Regions from separate parts of the Homo sapiens genome. Here region 1 is linked to region 2. The links come from fine-mapping of genetic effects on gene expression. Tissue or cell type: skeletal muscle. Region 2 holds a variant in brackets; the other region holds the start of a gene. All regions are shown on one strand. Distances are from middle to middle.

Region 1 (9,950 bases), 25 kb after region 2:
GGGGGAGGCAGATTCCAGCACTCCATCCCTCCATCTGGGCCACTACCCAGGGCAACCTGAGCAAGCGCTGGGCCCGGGCTCCTGTGGAGGAAGGGGTCTTCCGCGCCTTGCCCTCCCAACACCTGCAGGGCCCAGCCCACGCAGTGCCCCCAGAAGGTCTGAGATTATGTTCTCGGCAAACACCGGGAAGCCGTTCCACTCCCCTCCCCTTCATCTTCCATGAAATTCCCCGAGGACACAGCTCCCAAGGGAATGGAGCCACCAGAAAAGAGGTCAAAGTCTGCGTTACGGATTCTTACGGGGAAGAAAATCAAAACTGCACTTTTTATTCTCGCATTTTTAATCACCAAGGCCAAGGACAAGCGTCCTCCTTTGCCAAGGCAAACACCACTCAGAACTGCAGTTAAGGCGATGCAATGTCCAAACCAAACCAAACAGCTGAGCCGCATCGCGGGTGACACTAAGCAGGCCACAGCACAGCCGTTCCAAGAGGCACTGCCAGGGCTCTGCAAGCCGCCAACCCAGGCACAGGAGCGGCCCCGGGAAGGGATGCCAGAGGCAGCACCGTCCCAGGAGAGGACAGAGCTCAGCACTGCCTGGACCGGCTGGACCGGCCCAGGAGTGCACACCGGTGGCCTCAGCGGTCTCCTGACTATGTCTCCATGTGGGCTGAGTTTCTGCCTGGCTGACATTGCCAAAAGCTGCCCAACCAGTACCGGCACTACCAAGGCACCTTGAGCTCCCCAGTGACAAAGCACAAAAAGGTCTCAAAGACTCAGCAGTCAGGCTCCCGGAGTGGCAGCAGGAGCCACCTACCTACAAAACCAACCCCGCCTGTGTGCAGCAGCAGCAGCGCAAGCCTGTCACCAGGGCAAAGCCTTTCCAGAGTGGATCGACCCTTCAGACACCTGCGGCCCACCGCGTCCTGCCGTGCTAAATCAAATCATCAACCGCCACATCTTCACTTGGGAAAATCACCAATTAACCCACCCGTGGAAGACAAAACGCAGAACCTGTGTGTTTCACGTGCTCCAGACCAGCTGGTCTGCGTCCACAGGGGCTCAAAGTCCCCAAACACTCAGTCCTAAGAGTTTTCCTGCCAGCAGATTTCACTTAGACCTGCAGATAAATTACAGCTTCACCTAGGTGAAGGCCTACTGCCCGGTTAGGAGAGTTTTATTAAGGACGATCACGGGGTCGGTCCCCCAGAGCAAAACCACTCCATGTACTCACCCCCTGCCAACTCTCACCACGAAAGTTCCTGCTTTCTGGTTTCAGCGCAGAAGGAGAAAAAATAGGAAAAAGGTTCCGCTGGTACTTCTCTTCCACCCTCTGCAATCACAAACAAGTCGTAATGGAGCTAATGACTAATAATTTAATAAACCTCCCTCCCTTGACAACATGTGCTTCCACAGAGCAACAAGGCCAGAACCGTATGCCACAGACTCTGTGAAACCAAACCTAACAACCCCAGGGCCTGTGCCTTTCCCAAGCCGACTCCTCAGGTCACCCTGAATCCTGTTTCCCAGTGGCTCCGACGTGGCTTTAGGACTCATCTAGTCGACCGCACACCCGCCTTCAGAAACCTTCCAGACTGACGCGGCCCCAACTTCACAAGCTTTATTGAAAGCTGTATTCAAGTGCAATCGGCCCCCTGCACTCCAGCTGGAACCAGAGGGGCCACCCCTGAAGCCTCCATCTGGCTCTCCCAAGCCTGAGAGCTAAGAGGGCTTCCCAGGCCCCTGGCCAGGCACGCCTTGGCCGCCTACCACAATCAGAAACAGTTACTCTGCCGGGCAGGGTGCAAGCCGGTTAGGAAACATGAACCAGCGACTGCCGGGTAAATACCCACTCCACTCATCGCCCAGCCTGTCACTGAACCTGCAGACAGTTTTGAAACAAAGCACATCTGTAAGAGATCGCCCAGGACCCAGGGACACCCAGAGCAGGGGTTTCTCCTCTGAGAAAATGCTCCCCGGCAGCTGCCGGGCTCAGGCGTGGGGGTCTGGACCGAGAACGGATGCTGAAGAAAGAGAAAACCAAGGGCCTGTTTGTCGGTATCCCAGCCACAAAAACGACTGGGGAGGGGGCGGCAGGGGAGGCTTCCAGCGGTGCTCTGCGGCCCTTGGATGTGAACCTGTCATTTCGCAGACGAGAACGTGGATGCCACTCTTAACACATCTGAAGCAAAGGCAGGCACGTCAGCCTCCTACACAATTAGTCTTCTCTCTCCGCGGTTACATAAGATGATAGATTATCCGTCCACCCATCCAGCCTGCCCGCGCTCCGACCTCCCACCTTAGGCCCCAGCATGGGCGCCGGGCAGGAGTTGTGGGAAGGGAAAGCCTGTTGAGAATGAAGTGCCCGAGGCTCGCGCAACCGCGCCTGGAGGAGCCCCACGGTGCCACCGCGCCGACCGCGGCCTTCAGACAGCCCCCATGCCGTCCTGGCCGCCGCAACCCCTGGGCCCGCCGCCCCCGCCGCCCCGGCCCTGCCCGGGTGTGCTACGACCCCGACCGGTCCGAGGGCTTCCGGGGCCCGGCGCGCGGCTCCGTTCCCGCCGACGCCAAGGCGAGCGCGCGGGGGCCGAGCAGGGCCGTCGGAGCGGGGAGTGCTCCCCGGGCCTGGGGCTGGGGACTGACCGGGCCGCGGCGCGCATGGGATGGGGGGGCCCGGGCGGGGGTGGCCACCTGTGAGCGGCCGGCGCCGGGCTCACCACCCCAGCAGCCCGGGTCCCGGGTGGCCGCGCCGGGAAGACCCCCAAAGTCCCAGCCTCCTGGCCCGGCGCGCGGCCCCGGGGCCGCCCTGGTCGGGCTCGGGCGCGCGGGCGGCGCGCGACCCAGGCGCACACGGAGCGGGCTCAGCTCGGCGCCGGGGGGCGCTCACCTTATAGACATTTTCCGTGAGCCGGTGCATCTCCTCTGAGCGAGACAGAGACATGGTCCTGGGTCCCGGCTGCACCACAGACCGGAGCGGGGGACGCAAGCGGCGGCAGCAGCGGCGGTAACGGCAGCAGGACGGAGACGAAAGCGGACCCGAACCACAGAGCCCGGCGTCCGGCGGCGGCCACCTTTATAGCCGCCTCAGGCCCCGCCCCGCGGCAGTCCCCGCCCCTGCGTCCCGCCCCCGTTGCGCCCGCATCACCGCCCCCGACCACCCGCCCCCGCCCGGCGCTGCCGCTGCTAGGCAACCGCCAGGCCCCGCCCCCGCACCGCCCTTTCCATTGGTGGGTTCCGGAGAAGGGGGAGGGGGGCGGGATCGGAGGTGGGGCCTAGTGGCCGACTCCAGGCAGCGATTGGTCTGCGGCGGCGTCGATCCTGGGGGAGGAGAGGGGAGGCGCGGCGCGGGCTGGGGCCCTGGGAGCAGCCTGAGGGGGCCCGGGCAACAGCCGGGCTGGGGGCGGGGAGGCGGGGGCGGGGTGGCGCAGGAAGAAGGAGCAGAAGGTGCGGGGAGGAGAGCGGGGGGCGCCGGCGGCAGCGCGCGTGGAGGCGGCACTTCGCGAAGTGGCACTTCGGGGCGGGCGGCCCGCCGGGTCGCGGCCTGGCGCTGCGGGGCGGGGAGCGGCTCGGACGCAGGACGCCGCGGGCCGGGCTTACAGGTGGGAGAGGCCCCGACCCCGCCGCTTCGCAGGTAAGCCCGCCGGGCGGGCGGCGACCCCCCGGCCGGCCCCTCGGGGCAGAGAGGAGAACCCTGGGGGAGGGGGTGCTGCAGGAGGACCCTGGAGAGAGCTCGGCCCTGGAGTGGGGGACGACTTGGAGAAGGAGGATTTCGGGGGAGCATCGTGAGGAGAGGACTTGGAGGGAGGATCCTGCAGAAGGTGAACTCTGGGGAGGACCCCAGACAGGCAGACAGCGCTTGGGGGCTTGGGGCCGGGATTCTGGAGAGGGGAGGACCCTGGGAGAGGAGGGTTGGGGAAGAGGATCTTGGAGGAGGGCCCTGGGAAGGAGGATCTGGAGAGGGGACAGGGGAGTGTCCTGCTGGAAGGCCTGGGGACAGGGCGACCCTTAGGGACGGGGAGGACCCTCCTGCCGTCAGAAGATTCTCGTTGGAGGCAGTTTACTGAGAGAGAGAGGTCTCGGGAAGGAAGGGTCGAGGGCAGTAGGAAACGAGGGGCCCGGAGGACTCTCATGCGGTGGAAAGCCCTAGGGGGTGGGGGAACCTTGTAGGAGGAATGGAGGAGTCAGAGCTGCCTCCAATTTTTAGGAAGGGTCCTGCTTAAGGGTCCTCCCAAGGGGAGATTCTGCCGGGGAAGCTGGCCGAGTTGGCACACAGGTCTCCCGGTACAATTCCCGTGGAGAAATATTTACATAAATTAGGCTAACATAGAGGAATTATTTGTTTTACGTTGTGAAACACCAGATCTGAGCGTTTCCGTTTAATGAAACCTCTCAGTCTCCCAGCCTCCCATCCCTGCAAAATCATTCATTCATTCATTCCTTCAACGAGTCAGGCCCCTGGGGGAGACGCAGTTGTGCTGGCTGGCCGGCAGATCCCCAGACTGGCACGGGCTCAGGCCGATGGAAAGACCAGGGAAGTAAGATTCAGGAAGCATTGCCTCCCTCCCACCACAGCCCCGCGCCTCCTCTCCTCCGGCTGAATTTCCTTCCAGCTACTGGCCCTGGCTGCTTCCTTTTTCTTTATTGTCTCCAGTGTTTGGGGGTAGATCCCTGTGTATTTATTTTCTAGGATTCTTTTGGTGGTAAATGACAGAAAGCTCGCTCAAACTGGCCCTAACAAATGAGGGCATTTACCTGAAGGTAGGAGCATCTCCACTGACCCTGACCCCCTTCTTCTAGGCCAGCTTCCTGCTGTGTTCCCTGCACCCACCGATCTCACACGCAGCCCTAGGACAGACGTCCACTGGCCTGAGTTGGGTCTGGGGCCAACACGGAGCAGGTGGGGGTAGAGCAGCTCTGCTCGCCTGGAGGAAAGTTGAATGGCTGGAACCAAGATGACAGATGGAGGCTGGCAGGCAAACACGGGAGGCCTCCTCACTCCAAGAGGGGAGTCAGCCTGGGGACAGTTCTTCTCCAGGCCCTGCTGCTCCCATCAGCTGCAACACAGGAGAGGTAGGCTTCTCCGGAAAAGCTCCCACGGTCCTGGATCCCGCTCCACCTTCTAGAAGCTCCCAGCGTTACTTCCTGAGCTGGCCTGCACATCGTTGCGCTACTCCCGTCCAAGGGGGGACATATTCGGTGACCGACTCAGAACGCAGCCTGCTTCCCGGGTGGCCAGTGGCTCAGCAGTCTCGGTGCCTGAGCCTGCTCCCTCCGCCCGGCGGCTGGGCAGGTGGCTGAATGCGGGCTGGAGGCCTTCCCTGAGAAGACGGTTATCCATGCTGTACATGGAAGTGACCAGCTCGGCACCTGAGGAGACACACCGCGGCCGATGACAGGCGCAGAGCAGGACGTGGTGAGGTCCTCATACCTAGGAATGCAGAACAAGGGCAAGAAACTCGGTGCCCGCCTGGCATCTGCCCTGCACCAGTGGCCTCCAGGAAGTTCTCCACCAAGGATGTTCCCCAGGCACTCTGTGCTCGCCTTCACCAGCGTCCTGTGAGGTCTTTCACACTGATGGGGAAGCCTTTCTAAAGGGTATTAGGGGGCTTGGGGGCTGGGGGTGCTGAGTACCAAGGGTCCCAGGAAGAGACAGGCCAGGCTTATGGGCTGGGCATCCAGAGATCGCCCTGACGCCAGCTCCAGGTGGAGTTAGGAGGGCACTCTTGTCCCGACGCATTTACAGACCACTCCCTCTTCTTGTTCCCCTCGACTCTGAGAGTGTGGTGGGGTAGCTGTGGAACCTGACTGCTTGCCTGAAGGTTGGGCAGCGTGGCTAGAAATTGCGGCCCAGACCTGGGATCTCACCCACACCTCTATGAGACGTCCTGAAGGAAACCATCGACTGAGCGGAGAGGCTTCGCCTTGCCCGCCTCCTCCCAGGAAGGAAGAGCGGAAGAGGCGTCGCCAGCCACCGAGACTGCCAGCCACCACCCCCTCCCAGACTCTCTGTCCCCACCCCAGACCAGGGTCACCTTCTTCCTGCACTGGGGGTGGGGTGCGGTAGGTTTCGCAATCCAGACTGTGGGGTGGGGGTGGGAGCAGGTGTGTGTAAATGAGCAGCTCGTCAGGAGTCACTGAGAAGGAGGCAGATGGAGCTGGTACCCAGCAGGTCTCCTCTCATAAGCGTCAACCCTCGCCTGGGCGGGCTGGGGGATCCTCAGCACCCCAGCTCTGAGCCAGGGGTCTGCAACCCGGGCACCAGCGATGGGCCCTCATGCACACAGGGCGCCGAGCGGGGCCGGAGGCAAGAGTGACTTCAGACAGGAACCCGACGCCACAGCCGGTGACGCGGACCCTGGGTCAGCCAGCACGATGGGCCGCTGGGGAGAGGAGGGCTGGAGGCAGAGAGTGTAAGTGTGCAGCCTTCATCAGCTTATTTTTAGTCGCGTTATGTAAGTGGCTTCATCTCAACGTCACATGGGGGGGGGTCTCAGATTTAATTACAGGATGACAGCCTTTGCTTTTCAAGCAAGCTGTTCTCCTGGCAAGCCAGGCGAAGGATTGGGGAGTTTTGCTAAACAGAAGGAGCCCTTTCTGAGGTGACCACCCGTCAAAACTTGAACCCGCTTCCACCTCCGTCTCCCTCTTCCCGACCAGCCTCACCCAGCCTCGGCTGAATGTGGCCTGAGAGTAGCCACTTGTCCGCAATCACAGGGACGTTTTATGCCTGTCAAGGGAGCTTCCTCTCTCCTCTTCCTCCCCCTCCCACCTTCTGCCTGGCAGCTTTGCCTTCTCTCCAAGAGAAGGGTCCACCCAATCAGAACTCCTCTTCCTTTTCATTCCTGGATTAAAGCACTTGTAATCAGTAACCAGAAAGTTCCAGAGCGGGAGAGACCGGAAGGCACTGGAGTGCTATCGGACGGGTGTCTGGGGCAGAGCCAGGAGGGCGAGCCTCTTCTCTCCCCGCCTGCCCTTGCTCACTTCCCCCTCCATGCCAGGTGCTGTGGGAGCAGCTGGGCCTGGCCGGGGTCGGCGGGTGAAGCTATCCGCATGGTGTCTGGAGCACCGTTTCTTTGCTTCCTGGATGGGCTGGATGGGCTCCCGTGTTCTTCACCAATGGCAGCGTTACCAGCACCAATGGCAGCGTTACCAGCAAGAAGGCAAAGGCAGGAGCACATCGAGGGTGGGAGCCAGGGCTGTGGGGTCAGGAGTCCCGCTCCTTGCCGCGGGAAGCCTGGCTCAGCCACCTCCAGCACACTTCGGCTTTGTCCAGCATAAAAGGCAGAGCGACGTTTTCACTGCAGGCTGTTTCCCACCAGGGCAAGTGGGACAGGGCGAGTGCTGACGTCTGCAGGCATGGTGTGCATTTAGGGGTGGGCGGCACCGAGGGGGCATCATTTGGCATAGGCGGGCCCGGGGGCCACTGGGCTAGATGACTGGCTGGTTGCTGGGGGCAGGTGTCACAGCCTCTCTGAGCACCCTCTAAGTGGAGGACAGAACATTGTTGGGAGGAGTCCAGGCATAAAGTGACATAAACAGCGCAGAGAATGGGACCAGCGCACCTGAGAGGTGATCATTAGCCTCAGCAACTGGATGGGACATTCCGAAGAGCTCCCAGCCAACACAGATGGTCACTCCAGAGGCTGACATTTAAAAGGAAGGGGCCCGGCCGGGCACAGTGGCTCACGCCTGTAATCACAACACTTTGGGAGGCTGAGGCGGGCAGATCAACTGGGGTCAGGAGTTCAAAACCAGCCTGGCCAACATGGTGAAACCGCATCTCTGCTGAAAATACAAAAAATTAGCCAGGCATGGTGGTGGGCACCTGTAATCCCAGCTACTCAGGAGGCTGAGGTAGGAGGATCGCTTGAACCCAGGAAGTAGAGGTTGCAGTGAGCCGAGATTGTGCCATTGCACTCCAGCCTGGGCGACAAGCGAAACTTCGTCTCAAAATAAATAAAAGTAAGGGGCACAGGGAGGGGGCCCCAGCTCGTGCCCCTTCTGTGTGGGCTGCACATGGTGACTTCCTTCCAGAGAGCACAGAGTGGGAGGTAGGCAAGGCGTCTCCACAGTGGAGAGCCCGACCCACTGTCTCAGCCCAGAGGTCAAGGCTGGCACCATCACCGAGAGGTCACACGGGCAGATGTGACAGGGCGCTTCACCACTGGGCTCTTCCTCCCAGACCCATAACCCTTGTCTTAGTATTAGAAAAACACTGGCAGACCGGGCGCAGTGGCTTACACCTGTAATCGCAGCATTTTGGGAGGCCGAGGTGGGAAGATTGTTCAAGAGCAGTCTGGGCAACATGGTGAGACCCCATCTCTACAAAAAAAATTTTTTTTTTAATTAGCCAGGCGTGATGGCACATGCCTGTGGTCCTAGCCACTAGAGGCTGAGGTGGGAGGATCACTGGAGCCCAGGAGGTCAAGGCTGCAGTGAGCTGTGATCACACCACTGCACTCCAGCCTTGGCGACAAACCAAGACCCTGTCTCGAAAAGAAAAGAAAAGAAACATTAGGCAAATCCCAACAGGGGGACACTCTACAGAAAAACCGACCAGCCCTCCTGAAAACTTCCCAAGTCATCAAAACCAAGGAAAGTGGGCTGGGCGCGGTGGCTCACACCTTAATCCCAGCACTTTGGAAGGCTGAGGCGGGCAGATCACAAGGTCAGGAGTTTGAGACCAGCCTAGCCAACATGGTGAAATCTCATCTCTAAAAATACAAAAATTAGCCGGGCGTGGTGGCAGGCGCCTGTAGTCCCAGCTACTCGGGAGGCTGAGGCAGGAGAATTGCTTGAACCCAGGAGGCGGGGGTTGCAGTGAGCTGAGATGATGCCACTGCATTCTGGCCTGGGTGACAGAATGAGACTCTGTCTCAAAATAAAAAAAACCAAAAACCAAAAAACAACCAAGCAAAGTCTGAGAAACTGTCACAGCCTAGAGGAACCTGGAGACAGCTGATCCCTAAATGTCACGTGGGATCCTGGGTGGGGTCCTGGGAGAGAAAGAAGACATTGGAGGGAAACTGAGGAAATATGAATAAAGTATGGGCTTTAGTTAATAATAATGTAGCAGCATTGATTCATTGATCATCATAAACACATGTACTGATGCAAGATGTCACCAAAGGGAAAACTGGGCTGGGGGGATGGGGGGGTGGCGGTATCTTTGTAACAATTGCATGAATGAAAAATGTGCTAGAGTTAAGGTTGTCATGGGAATGGGCAGTGATCTTGCACAGGCCTCCAGTTTTACCTGCAGGAGTCCGAAGGCGTCACCTGTGCCTCACCCTGGAATCTCGTCCTGGCCCCCAGGTCCCCACTCTGTCCACCTTGGGGTCAGTGGATGGAGCTGTTGCCCCTGTGGTCTGCTGCTGCTGATCACAGAGAGCCCCAGGGGGCCAGCACCCTGTGGAGTGGCCCCTTATCCCGAGGACAGGCACGTGGGCCCGCCCCCCACCTCGCCCCCTCCCCCGTCTGTGGCTGCGGCTGGACTGCCCGCAGTGGAGCTGGGGCTGTGAGGCGCGAGGGTCCTGCTGACGGCTCAGCCCTTCTGCCACCCCAGACGTGGTTCTCACCTGGCCTCCTTGGCAGATGGTGCCTTGGGTTTGCTGCCCACAACCCAGCGTGGCTCATGGCTGTCCTGCAGCCATAGTGTTGGCCAGACTTCTGGCCATAGCCAGGGAGATGCATTGCTGCCCATCCGGGCATCTGATGTCCCCTCTCTCCTCTCGCAGAGAGTACGTGGCCCGTGATGGGGAGGAAGTTCTGGAGGACAGGATGAGGCCACTGTCTCTAAGGCAGGGAGACCCTGCCTGCTCTGAGCAACACATGGGCAGAGGAGTGTGGGCATGGCCTCTCGGGCCCTTCCTGACCCTGTGTTGCCGTGGTCCAGCCTCAGCCCTCAAAGTGAGGCGGCCTACAGACAGAGCTTCCCTACAGACCAGGCCA
Region 2 (8,000 bases):
TGGGTGCGATGGCTCATGCCTGTAATCTCAGCACTCTGGGAGGCCGAGGCAGGCAGATCACTTGAGAGCAGGAGTTTGAGAGCAGCCTGGACAACATGGTGAAACCCCATCTCCACTAAAAATATACAAATACAAAAATTAGGCGGGTGTGGTGGCCGGTGCCTATAATGCCAGCTACTTGGGAGGCTGAGGCAGGAGACTCGCATGAACCTGGGAGGTGAAGGTGGCAGTGAGCCGAGATTGCACCCCTGCACTCCAGCCTGGGTGACAGAGTGAGATTCGGTCTCAAAAAAAACTAAAACCACTATTACAAAAAGGAAAGGCCCACCAGACTGAAAGCAAATATGTGCAAAATAGATTCCTGGCAAGGGACTTCCATCTAGAGTATACAGAGGACTCTCGTAACTTAAGAAGACAAAAGCCAAGTGAAACAAAGGGGGAAGATTCGAACACACACTTCACCAAGAGAGATCAGTGGTGAACAAAAACACAAAAAGATGCTCCACAACATCAGTTAATTAAGGAAATGAAAATTTAGGAACGCCCCAAGCTAAAAACACCCAGGTGTCCATCAACAGATGAGGGTACGGCCAAACTGTGGCACCTCCGCACAACAGGACCCTGCAAGCGACGAAATGCAACAAATTCCTGACGCGCGCAGCAGGAAGGCAGCTCAGAATAACCACGCACACCCGAGGAAGCTGGACAAAAAAAGAAGACACGCCGTATGGTTCCATGTATGTAAAACTCCAGCAAATGCATGCTAAATTACAGTGACAGAAAGCGGATCAGTGGTTGCCTGGAGATGGGGAGGGAGGGCCCGAGGACTCTTCGAGAGACGGACAAGTTCACCATTGTGATTGTGGCCACAGCTTCACAGGTGTACACACGTCAAAACTCATCACACTGGACACTCAGACACCTCGATGAAGTTGTACAAACAGTCATCATAATACACCGTCTGCCTTAGCCATGAAAAGAATTTATATCATCAGATAACACCGTACATGAGTTTAAACAAATACTGTGATAATTATACTGGGTGGGGCAAGGGACAGCATAAAAAGGCTAAGTCCACATCTTCCGTAATAAGAATCCTTTCGATGATGTCTAAACTTTTTTTTGAGACGGAGTCTCGCTCTGTCTCCCAGGCTGGAGCGCAATGGCACCATCTCGGCTCACTGCAACCTCCGCCTCCCAGGTTCAAGCGATTCTCCTGTCTCAGCCTCCCTAGTAGCTGGGATTACAGGCGCATGCCACCACGCCCGGCTAATTTTTTGTATTTTAGTAGAGATGGGGGTTTCACCATGTTGCCCAGGCTGGTCTCGAACTCCTGACCTCAGGCAATCCACCTGCCTCAGCCTCCCAACGTGCTAGGATTACAGGTGTGAGCCACCGCGCCCGGCCCTGTTGGAGGTAGAGGAGGAGGAGGAGGAATGGCATAAACCTGCCCTCTTAGACACGCAGCCGAGGGAGCCGCCTCTGTGCAGTAGGACTTGGCCACACTAGGAGGGTGGGAAGTGGCTGACTTTGTTTGAAACAAGGATGTGTTGCTTTCATAAAAACTCAACTCCCAGCCATCTGACCCGGCAATTCCAGTTTCGGTGCATGCCCAGGAGAGATGAAAACAGGCTCACAGCTGCCGGAAGGTGACAGCAACCCCAGATAAATGAAATGGGTCTGCCTGTGCAATGGATCATCGTTCAGCCACAAACAGGAATGAAGCCCTGACACGGGCTATAGCACAGAGGGACGGTAAACATGTGCTCAGGGAAAAGGGTCAGACACAGAAGGTCACACACCGTATGACTCCATTTATATGAAATGTCTAGAATGGGCCAGTCCGGAGAGACAGACACAGTGGTGTGGCTGCCAGGGGCTGGGAGCGTGGGGATGAGGGAGGGACTGCTTAAGGGGTATGGGATTTCTTTTTGGGGTGCTAAAAACGCTTTGGGGTGATAAAAATGCTTTGGAGTTAGATGGGGCAATGGTTGCACACTGTAAATACACTAAGCCACAGAACTGTACACTCTAATGGGGTAACTGTATGGCATGTGAATTCTGTCAATCAAGCTGTTACCGGGAAGAAAACCTGACTCCCAGAGCAAGGCTGACATGTGGCTGGCCCTCTGCAGATGCACACAGCGGGGCTCCACGCTCCAGGAGGAGCCCGGGGAGAGATTCCAAAAGGCCACAGGTAAACAGACGCTCCCTGATCCAAGTAAGAGCCCTCACGTCTCCCTCTCTTCTGAAGCTTCCCTCCTCCTCCTTGTGCCCATGTGGGCTCAGCGCCTTCTTGCAGTCAACCACCAGGGACTCCGCCAACAGGAAGTTCTGGAATCCCACCCATTTCGGACCCACCCACCCCTCACTGTGGGCCACAAGAGCCTGGAGTTCCCCACGGGCAGACCCTCATGCGACCAAGGGGCGAAGACACCTGGTCCTCTACCTCATCTCCTCAACACCTGGTTAATTATGGTAAGACAATGCCTCTTTCAGCCAGGCGTGGTGGCTCACGCCTATAATCCCAGCAGTCTAGGAGGCTAAGGTGGGAAGATCACTTGAGCCCAGGAGCTCAAGACCAGCCTGGGCAACACAGTAAGACCTTTTCTCTACAAAAAATTAAAAATAAAAAATCAGCTGGGCGTGGTGGCGCACGCCTGTGGTCCCAGCTACTAGGGAGGCTGAGGCAGGAGGATCACTTGAGCCCATGAGTTCAAGGCCACAGTGAGCCACGATAGTTCTGCATTCCAGCCTGGGCGACAGAGCAAGACCCTGTCTCTAATGAAAAAGAAAATGCCCCTTTCACAGACACCCACTGCTTCTGCCCTTCTCCAAACCCTGAAGACCCGGTCAGGGCCCAGGAGCTCCAAGGCAGGCTGCTGTTGGTTGCACTGGAGTCTCAGCCTCCGTCACCCTAACACCATGCATCTCACACGTCATCCTCCAGGCTGAGTCTGCGGAGGCCCGGGGACCCCGCCCAGAGTGCCTCCTCCTCTCCTCCCCAGTCTGTCAGCACAGCGGTGCCTCGAGAAACTCCAGCCGCCCGGGCATCACCAGACCTGCAGCAAACACGCCAGCGGGCCTGCCCAAGGCAGCAGCCTGTGGGGGCGTGGGGGGGGGGCTCCGATGAGGGTCCGCAGGGGGCTGCGAAGTGCGGCCGGCAGGTCTGCCTCCCGGCGCAGGACGTCGTGAGTGAACTGGAGAGAACGGGGCCTGGACAGGCAAAGCTGGGTTCCTGGGGTCCCAGCCCCAGAGCCTCAGCATTAGGGAGACGGAGCCTCTTCTGGGAGCTGGAAGTGACACAGAGCAACCCACGACCCCCCAGCCCACCGCCTGCCGACTCAGCCAGGGCCTCTGTCAGTCAAGGGGGCTTTCAGTCCCCGAGAAGAAAAGTAGAAAGAAGGGAACAGGGCCAGTCACAGTGACTCTTCCCCATCCGAGGGTCTCCAGACCTGCAGACCACCTCCCAGATTGGCGGCCACGGGGAGACGGTCAAGAGTGAGCGCAGCCTGTCCTCCGTGACCAGAGGGAAGAGGAATCCAAGTGGTTTCTCCAGCGACTCAGGCTTCCTTGTGCGTCAAGGGCCGCTCTGCCGGCCACAGCTCGCTCTGGGAGCAGCAAGTGAGCACAGGCAGCCGGCCCGGGGTCTCCCAGGCGGGCAGAGGAAACCTCAGCACCACCCTGCTAGGTGAGGGGACTGTGGAAGCATGGACTCCGTCTAAGCCACGCCTGCAGCACCACCACGTGGGCCCTGAATTTCCAGGTTTCACCCTGTGTCCCTTGACATAGACGTCACAGGAGCGATCACAGAAAATTTGCTAAACACAGACAAAGCATCAATAACATAACCTGCCCTCCAGGAAATCCACCCACTCACGCTGCTGGGGTGTCTTCCTCAGGGCCACACCACACGTGGGCTTGCATCCTTTTTCACTCATTTTAATACCAGGAATGAATTCCCACGCCATCTAATCCCATCATCCAAGCACACAGACCCCCATGTCAGCCGCTCCAATTTGCCGGGAACACTTTTAAACGTGGGTTTGCCTGCTGTCCTCACCCCAGGCTGCACGCCTCAGGGGACGGGGACCCAGCACCCACTTTCAGCAGGGTGTGCCCCACAAGGCAGCTCCCAGGGTGACTGTCATTAAAATATTTTCCTATTTGACAGGCAAAACCTGATCCCAAATCAAAAAGCGGCTGGACACAGGACAGGGCCCCAGAGCTGCCTGAGGGCATCAGGCGACTACCAGGCGGGGGGGGGGGGGGGGTCTCACCGAGTTCTTTGGAGCCCTGGCTCTCGCTGGCCAGCTCCCCCATCTTCACCAGGGCGTCAAAGTAGCCTTTGGCTGCATACGTCACACCTGAGAGAGAAGAAAAGGGAGCAGTTATTTCCTCCACGAGGGACAGACAAGACCCCCAGCAAAAACACGGCAGTCTTGGCACGCACAGGCCCAACCCTGTCTCCTGCCCAGACAAGCTGGGAGAATACTCGACTCGCTGTGATTTCTGGGTTGGACAGAACCCATCTCTTGTTGATATTCTTGTTTCACCCCAATCATGAGAGCTCCCTTGACTCGTAAGAACACAACGTACCAGTTCAGGTCCTGAGCTATTCAAGTCAAATTGCAGAGAGCTGATCCCTATCACGTGCTACCAGGCAGGGCCGGGGGGAGGGAGTGTTGTACTAACTGTATTTCATGAGACAAA[G/C]AACCAACCCTGGGCAAGGAAACTGCAGAGCTGGGCAGTAGGAAGCCATTTCCCCACAGATCCCCAAGCTGAGCCTGGAGTGGGAGAACTATTTCCAATTGCTTCACAGTCTCAGACCAGGACGCCCGTCACAGCTGATCAAAGGAGGCTAAAGGCATTACTTGGTATTGCCGCCGCCTGAGGGGCCTCCCAGCATCTCAGAGGCAGAGTCTGATCTAATCAGAAGTGGGTGTGAAGGGCTCCGGGCCTGCTGAACTCCTCCACAGCCACAGGGGTGGAGCAGGCTCCTGGAAGAGCCTGGGCTTCCTCCTCAGGGACTCCAGGGAGTGCCTGGCAAACTCCTCCACCTGACAGGGAGCCCCGCCCTGACCTCCAGGCCGCAGAAAGGGCGGGGCAGGGCCCCGGAGAGCAGTGTAATTACAATTTCTAATCCGTTTTCTACAGAACCCACTTAGGGGCCTATAACTGGGCACTTTATCAGATTTTATTTATATACTTTTCAATTAAGCGCACAATTTGTTCTGCGGCACAAGACCACGTCCACAGAGGAATGAAGGCCTGTGCCTGGGACGGGTGTGCTGCCTCGAACAAAAGAAAAACGCAACAGCAGAAAAACGCAACAGCAGAAAAACGCAACAGCAGAAAAACGCAACAGCAGAAAAACGCAACAGCAGAAAAACGCAACAGCAGAAAAACGCAACAGCAGAAAAACGCAACAGCAGAAAAACGCAACAGCAGAAGTGAGACTCCAGGGCGGCTGGCTGCGGCTAAGGTGGCGGTGCTGCCTGGACGGCCGAGCTCATTCCCACCAGGCCATCAAGAAAAGCAGGAGCAGGAAGTAAAGCTCCAAGTCTCCACACTCAGCCCCGCCACCCTCATGAGGAACCAAACAGGAGCGGAAAGGCCCGAACGGAACCCACGCCTTGGTGGCATCAAAGGGCCGAAGTGCCTGCTCACCCAGAGGAGGGGAACACAGGCCCCGGCCCCCACCGCAACCCACTGAAAGCGGCATCCACACCACTTCCCCGTGTGCGGACGACGGGGAAGAAACCCACACCTCGGAGAGCCACGTGAGGGCTACGGAAGACTCTACCGTAGATGAGGTCACCAAGTGTCCCACAGACGAGTGGCTCTGGAAAAAGGAAGCCATCGTCAGTCTGCAATGTGCAAGACCAGCCCCCATCTCCAGGGGTGGGATCATCTGGACTCTGGATTCTCATTGTAATGGCCAAGATTCAGACCCAGCCAGGAAGAGATGAACAACTGGTCTCATTCACAGGGCACGGAACTTAGCTGGGCCCGGAGAATCTGGACATCGTGTGCTGTGCCTAGAGATCATGGGGTCACCACAGTTGGAAGCCCTCTGCACCCACCTCGAGCCGGGCCTCAGCCTTCCTACTCTGATTCGGGAGCCTCTCTCCAGCGTCAACATTTCAGGCCAGAGGCAAAGGCAGCTCTCCCTGGGACCCCCATGAAGCTGCCCAACAACTGGGGTGCACCATAGGGAAGCAAACCAGGTGCAACTTCCACCAGGAGGCCACGCCGACCCTCAGAGCTGCCACAGGCTCTGCTGCCGACCTCCACTACCTCATCCAAGAAGCTCCTGGCTGGGGGACGGGGGTCACTGCCACAGCCCAAGCATCTCCACTGTCATGAAAACCCTGCAGACGGCCGGGCGCGGTGGCTCACCCCTGTAATCCTAGGCACTTTGGGAGGCTGAGGCGGGCGGATCACGAGGTCAGGAGATCGAGACCATCCTGGCTAACACAGTGAAACCCCGTCTCTACTAAAAATACAAAAAATTAGCCGGGCGTGGTGGCAGGCACCTGTGGTCCCAGCTACTCGGGAGGCTGAGGCAGGAGAATGGCGTGAACCCGGGAGGCAGAGTTTGCAGGGAGCCAAGATAGCGCCACTGCAGTCTGGCCTGGGCAACAGAGTGAGACTCCGTCTCAAAAAAAAACAAAACACCCTGCAGACTTTCGCTGGAGGAAGGACAGCTCTTTAAGACAATTTTGATGAGCAGGTCCCTCGGGTGCAACCCCGGGCCCAGGGATGTAGAGGAGGGGCAGGGTGGAGAGAAACAAGGCTGCTGCTGGGGCAGCCATGGGGGCCCCTGCAGGGTGCCGGGTGCAAACAGGAGGTGGCCCAAGGGAGCTCCCTGTCCCATTCATGCCCACAAGGAAACATGAAGGCCACCCCCAACTAGATGTGGCAGGCGGGCACAACTGGTCCACCTGGGGAGCTGAGAAGGAGGGCAGTGCCAGGGACAGGCCTTCTGCCAGGTGCTCGGTTGGAGTGCTTTCTCCCCAGGTGACAACGGAGTAAAGGTGGTAAAAAAGGAACGAGGGCTGACCAACTCCTGCCCCGTCCTTGACACCTCTAACCTGGCACCAAAACTGGACAACCAACTCCACCCAACCCATGGGTGCCGCAACACCAGGAAGCGGTGGAGGAGCCGGGGGCGCCGGCAGAGACGCAGCACGTGTCCCGGAAAACACACGATCTCCTCCCTGCTGGGGATGTGGACTCTGCCCATGAAGATGCTGCAGTTACAGGGACAGACACGGTAGAGGGTACAGGGAGACCGGGGGTCACTGTCCAAGAATAGCAAGTCCCCATCCATGGCAGGACTCAGCCAAGGGCACCTGCGGGGCCAACAGGGCAGGTGAGAAGGGCATCTGGCGACAAGGAAGCCACTCCCCACCAGGACGGAAAGACCCAGGTGCACCCAAGGCCCCGCAGTGGAGTGCCTGGGTGGGGTGGGGGCGATGGGAAGCGTCTCAGGGAGACAGTGGGAAGAATGGAATGTCCCTGCAGCCACCAGTCCCCCACACCCTCTGTCCCGGCTCTTTGTGAGAAGGAGCTGCAGGGCGTTCGCTCATTTCTCAAACCCGAAGCTGCTGCAGTTACCAACAGCTTCATCCCAGCCCTGATCCCACAGTTTCTACATGATCCTGAGGGACTGACATCCGCACCCCTCCCGTCTCTAGATGCCACAGGACAAGAGCAGCCCGCACAGGCAGGGGCGTGCTGCCACAGTGACAGCAGACCCAGTCCAGAATGCATGGGCTACACCTTCACTCAGAGCCGCTGTCCAGCTTTGTTGCTGGAACAGAAGACCTCCTTTCGCTCCTGACCAGGCCCCACAGGCTGTGCCCAAGTCCATCTGCCAGCTCAGGAGGCAGCTCCCACCCCACGGGGCCCGGGCACAGTTCTACCAGCTCAGGAGGCAGCTCCCACCCTTGGGGCCAGGGCACAGTTCTACCAGCTCAGGAGGCAGCTCCCAC

What was found. PIP is the estimated chance that this variant, and not a neighbour inherited with it, causes the effect.
Region 1: it holds the start of BAIAP2, and the variant in region 2 is fine-mapped to the expression of BAIAP2 in skeletal muscle (GTEx, PIP above 0.99).

Annotation. Positions count from the first base shown.
Region 1 is chr17:81,028,245-81,038,194 of GRCh38, reverse strand. It overlaps BAIAP2 (BAR/IMD domain containing adaptor protein 2), which reads right to left and starts at 3,044. Exons shown (of 14, transcript NM_001144888.2): 1 at 2,887-3,044. The coding sequence starts at 2,940. It overlaps BAIAP2-DT (BAIAP2 divergent transcript), which reads left to right and starts at 3,476. Exons shown (of 2, transcript NR_026857.1): 1 at 3,476-3,630; 2 at 4,797-9,062. RefSeq lists enhancers at 629-1,181, 2,232-3,227, 6,463-7,070, 7,071-7,679 and a silencer at 3,099-3,408.
Region 2 is chr17:81,054,248-81,062,247 of GRCh38, reverse strand. It overlaps BAIAP2 (BAR/IMD domain containing adaptor protein 2), which reads right to left. Exons shown (of 14, transcript NM_001144888.2): 3 at 4,281-4,367. Among named protein-coding and RNA genes, the nearest start is that of BAIAP2, 23 kb to the right of the region's middle. RefSeq lists enhancers at 3,476-4,367, 4,368-5,257, 5,258-6,149. The variant G/C (reference allele first, on the strand shown) is at 4,714.